Linked DNA regions of Homo sapiens: region 1 is linked to region 2. The links come from fine-mapping of genetic effects on gene expression. Tissue or cell type: whole blood. Region 2 holds a variant in brackets; the other region holds the start of a gene. All regions are shown on one strand. Distances are from middle to middle.

What was found. PIP is the estimated chance that this variant, and not a neighbour inherited with it, causes the effect.
Region 1: it holds the start of GDPD5, and the variant in region 2 is fine-mapped to the expression of GDPD5 in whole blood (INTERVAL, PIP 0.98).

Annotation. Positions count from the first base shown.
Region 1 is chr11:75,524,967-75,527,466 of GRCh38, forward strand. GDPD5 (glycerophosphodiester phosphodiesterase domain containing 5) reads right to left here and starts at 975. Exons shown (of 17, transcript NM_030792.8): 1 at 244-975. RefSeq lists an enhancer at 326-826 and silencers at 673-1,192, 1,243-1,302.
Region 2 is chr11:75,461,851-75,464,603 of GRCh38, forward strand. It overlaps GDPD5 (glycerophosphodiester phosphodiesterase domain containing 5), which reads right to left. Exons shown (of 17, transcript NM_030792.8): 4 at 936-1,039. Among named protein-coding and RNA genes, the nearest start is that of KLHL35, 30 kb to the left of the region's middle. The variant C/G (reference allele first, on the strand shown) is at 1,275.

The DNA.
Region 1 (2,500 bases), 63 kb after region 2:
AATACACAACACCTATTTCAGGAGTAGCAGTGAGGCTTAGGCGGGGCGGGGCGGGGCAGGGCGCGAACCCGCACACAATGGGCGCTCAATAAGTACCCGTTTTCTTTCTTTCCCCTCCCCTTCCCGCGCCCCCTCCCAGCCAGTTCCAGCCTCTGCTTGTTTCCCCTGACACTCCCTCCGCTGGCCCCCGCGCTGCCGCGATGGGGTCGGGGACCGCTCCTGCCGCGCATCCGGGGCTCTCACCTGCAGCCTTGGCTCTCGCAGGCCGCCGGGACAGAAGGGGACCCCTGTGTTATCTTCGGGGCAGGCGCTGAACCCCTCACCTGAGGCGGGACGAAGGTGACAGCCTGGGCTCGCGGCACCAGCCCGGCGGTTCGGTCCGACTGTCCTGCCCGCCTAGGACCCCTCACCGAGCGCACGACCCGGCCAGGGCTTCCCGGGCGCTCGCGCTGTTCCAAGCTGTTCCAACTGAAGGTTGGGGTCTCGTGAAGCCAGAGGCTGGGGGGGTCCGGGGTCCCGTGCACCGGAGGCGAGGGCCTGGGGCCACACTGCGCTAGCCCTGGAGCTGGGGTTCCGACCCTCACTGACGGAAAGGCGCGGAGCGACCCTGCAACCACGGACCGGTACGGCGGCGTTAGGAGCGTCCCGTCCCGGCGCAGCGGGTCAGGGCCGGGGCTCCGCGCGTCCCGGCCGCACGCCCCGAACCGCGGGGCTGGGACGGGCAGGGCAGGGCAGGCGCCGGCGGGGAGGCGCGGCGGCCGGAGCCCCGCGGGGAAGTCTTTCCAGGTCCCGACTCGGCTCTCTCTGCAAAACGGGGCGAACCTCGGCGCGGCGGCCGACTCCCGAGCTCCCGGCCGCGGCTCCACTTCCTCCTCTTCCCCTGCTCCCTCGCCGCTCGCTCAGCGCCGCGCCGCTGCCACCTCCGCTGTCATCCCCGCCACCCACCCCCACCGGAGCCGCAGCCCGAGCTCAGCCGAAACAGCGCCGCCCAGCGCCCCAGCGCCAGCCTGCGCGGCCCCGCCCGGACGGGGCGGAGTCAGCAGAGACCCCGCCCCCGGCCGGCTGCGGGCAGGGGCGGGGTGCGCGCCCTCTCCCCTTCCCGGGCCTCGCGCGTGGGGCCGCAGGAGCCAATCCGAGGGTGGGAGCGGAGCGGCGCCCTGCGGAAAGCGGATTCTACCTCGGAGAGGGCGGGGCGGACAATGGAGAGGTGCGGCTGCAAGAGGACAATGGCGGGGCTGGGGGTTCGGAACGGGCCGAATCGGGGAGGGGGTTGGCCTCGGGACCCGGAAGGAGGGAGAGGCGAGAGGGCTGGCTTGCCTGGGACGGGGGCATGGGGACTGCTGTGCGGGGATTGCGGGGGTCACGGGGAAGGAGCAGGGGCCAGTGTAGGAAAAGAAGCCGGGGCGAGGCAAGGTGGAGGATATCCGGGGTCAGGGGTCCCAGGGACGCTGGAGCGAGCCCTCCTGAGTGGTGGGATGCCACCGACACCTTGCTTCTCCCTAGCTTCTAGTGCTCGGCGCTCAGAGGTGAGAGTTGGGCTGGGAAGTGTTCAGATTTCAGGAAACGGTGAAAAATAAGTTTTTGGAAATGAGCGAATTTGTCTTCCACAAGCCTCCCTTCCCTGCGCCCATCCCCGAGGAGGAGCGTCGTGGTCAATTTTAAAAATACGAACTCAAGAGCAGAGTTGTGTGAGGACACACACTTCGAATCGTGATGCATCTGCAGTCCGCTCCCGCCCCTTCCCACCCCGCGCGTTGGGTGCAGGAGCCGTCTTTATTTTCTATTTCATTTTATTTTGAGACAGGGTCCCGCTCTGTGGCCCAGGCTGGAGTGCAGTGGCACTATCACGGCTCACTGCAGCCTCGAACTTCCAGGCTAAAGAGATCCTCCCACCTGTGCCTCCGGAGTAGCTGTGACTACAGGCGTGCACCACCACATCTGGCTAATTTTTAAATTTTTTGTAGAGACAGGGTCTCCCTATGTTTTCCAGGCTGGTCTCGATCTCCTGGGTTCCGGCGATCCTCCTGCCTCGACCTCCCAAAGTGCTGAGATTATAGGTGTGAGCCCTGTGCTTGGCCAAGGAGCCGTCTTCAGTGTGTGCACAGGACCAGGCGCAGAGAAGGTGTTGGAGGGAACTGATGTATGAATGAAAGTTGAATGTGTGCCGCGGGGGAGTGGGGTAGGGACCATGTGAAAGCCGCTAACTGGCCTGGGGAGCTAAGGGATGTTGGTGGCACAGTACAGTCTCTTTGTAAACCTCACACCAACCTTATGTTGTGATAGGTACCCCATTTCACAGATGAGGACTCAGCACAGAGAGGCTAAGTGACGTTCCCGAGACCACACAGCTGGCACAGAGTTCTATCCACCCATCATTATCAAATTCTAGGGTAAAGCTGTGTGGCTTTAACAGGTTACTCTCCCTCTCTGAGCCTCTGTTTCCTCATCTATAAAAGAAGAATAAAGGTGCTACTTGGCAGGGAACCAGGTGAGGGACTGG
Region 2 (2,753 bases):
GTGACCTGGGCCTGTTTCCTTATCTGTCAGTAGAACCCTGGGTCCTTGCCCTCCTCCCATGACCTCTCCACTGCTTAGCAAAAGGCAGGCGATGGAATGGCGAAGAGGAAAAAACAGGTGCCCCTCCTGTACCCAGGTAAGTGGCTCAGACGGCCCTGCCTTTGGATCTGAGGTACCCACAAAGGACCTTGAGCTGTCCCCAAACTCATCTGCCAGCCCTGCCCAGGGCCTAGCTAAGGGAGTTAGGAGGCCTAGGATCCAGGGCTATCTCCTCTGCAGAGACCTTGGTCTCTCTGAGCTGTAGATTTCTTGTATACAAAGGGGGTAACCAAAGGGCCCTGCCCCGGTTGAGCCCTGGCCCAGCCTTATGTTCCTATTGTCCATGGTCACAGCACCGGGAAGGAATGCCCTGTGTCTCCCCAGTGGGCTTTGGCTCCTGTAAGCCTTTGTTCTTTGAGGCTCCCCTCCACCTCTTCAGGAGGCCAGGAATGCAGGCTGAATCATCAATGCAAGCACCAAGGGGTCTCCAAGACCAGCAGCTAAAGTTCCCCAGGTTTCAATCCCAGTCATTCTTTAAGGCCCAGTTCCCATGCCTCCTCCTCCAGGAAGCTTTCCCTGAGTTCGCAGTAGGACTCCCCTCGGGGCATGGATCTCTCTGTTTCCTCCTCCTCTTTCTTGCCAGTCTGCGATACAATCCTCACCCATACCTCTGGCACTTCCCACTATAGTCCCACACCAGCCTCCTCACCAAAGCCCTGGAGGTGAGCAGGACAGAGGCTCCCAGGGAGTAGGCCCTGCCCAGGGCCACACAGAGAGCTGGTGGCAGAGCTCAGAGGGCCAACCTGGGAGACAGGCTCTAACTCCAGCCCCCAGGTCCCAGCTACTGGATACCCAGCTCTGGGCCCCTTCCTCCCCCACCCACTGCCCCTACTCACCAGTTGAATTCATCATAGTCATTGTGGACTTCCCACCAGAAGTAAAGCCAGGTGAGCGTGAGGCCAAAGGTGAAGGTGAGGAGCAGGAACCAGAGGCGCTCCCACTGGAAGAGCAGAGGAGGAGGGGATTAAGTGGGTCAGGGGCCAGCCCCTTAGGCTGCCTCCCACCAGAATGTGTCCTCCTCCCTCCCACTTTGTAGCCAAACCTGCCAGGCAGGAATTCCTGCCCTCTTTACCCTGGGAGAAACTGAGGTTCAGAGAGGGGAAGTGACCTGTCCACCATCACCAAGCCCAAAGTCACAGAAAGGTGGAGAGCCAGGGGCAGTCAGGGCCTCCCCC[C/G]CTGGGGCTGTGCTCTTTTTACTGTGGTCTGCAGCCTTTCCATCGTGTACTGCTCTCCCTATTCTGGGGACGGCTCCCTTGGCGCTGGCACAGTGATCGGCAGTCTGTGAAGTCACATCCCTCACACACATGCCTACAAAGCAGGCACTCTTCTTCTCCACCTCTACCCCGTGCTACCGAGAAAAACACTGAGGCCCAGAGAGGCCAAGTGACTTGCCCAGGTCACACAGCAAGTTAGCAGAGGATTAAGGAAGAAGTACAGAAGTGCCATGTTCTGCTGCCTCCACTGGGCCAGATACCCCTGTCTCCAGCCAGGTGGAAGTGGGGTGGCGGGGGACACTGACACCACCACTGCTGTTTCCTGAGGGGCCAGCTCAGGCGTCTGCAGGCACTTCCTCCTGGCCCTCCAATTTCTCCCTGCTTTCATCCGTCCCCTTATCTTGGAAGCACAAAAAGCTTGGAATATCCTGCATCCCGGGAAACTGCTGAGATCATCAGAACAAGTCAACAGCCCTTGAGGGGAGGTCAGTGTGAGGAAGAACCAAGACTACATTTCCCTTGAGGGTGTAAAGTCACAGAGGCAGCCCTACGTCTGAGCTCCCTGCTATGTTTCTAAACCATCCCAGTTTAACCTCTTCATGGCTCCTTACTGATAGCCAAGCAGGAGTGTGGCCCCCTGACCTCTCCAGCTTCGACCTACACAACCAGTTCCTGCAACCTGGAAGGGCCACTGCCTCTGGGCTTGTTCCCTGAACATTCCCACTCACCTTTCAAGTCAGCTCAAATATCACTGCTTCTGTGAAGCCTCCCTGGATTCACCCTGCTACCCTCGTGCCTGCCGCGGTGCGCCCGCAGCATTGGCATCCCTCTGTCTAAACTCACGCTCTGCACACCATGACCTGCTCACTGTGTCCCCCAGACAAGTGTGGGTTCTGCAAGGACAGAGACTGAGCCGACTTCCACTCTACTAGTACTTTATGACCACATGCAGGATTGGGCAGGAAGGAGGGAAAGTCTTCTCACTGTCCAGAATCCTTCCATCCCACACCATGCAAAGATACCATCAGTCTGCCCAGGAACCTCAGATCCCTGTCACCACTTACAAGCTGTGTAACTCTGGGCAAAGTACTCATTCTTTCTGTGACTCAGTTTTCACCTCTATGAAATGAGGGCAATACTAGTACTTATGCCATGGGGTTGATGGAGAATTAAATGAGATAATACAAGTCAGGTGGCTTGGTGAGCACTCAGCACACTACCAGTGTATCTGTGACATCCTCTGCCTCTCCAGAACGTAGGAAAGGCCTTCACACCCTAATGGTCCATGACTCCATACCCACTAAGGGCCTGCTCCGTGCCTCGCCCTGGGCAAGAGGGCTGGTGCCTGGGTGACCCTCCTGTCCCAGGTGGGTCACTTCAGTTGGGCGACTCATGTTTGGGTGAGCAGCTGCCACCACTCCTTGTCATGTGCAGAGCCCG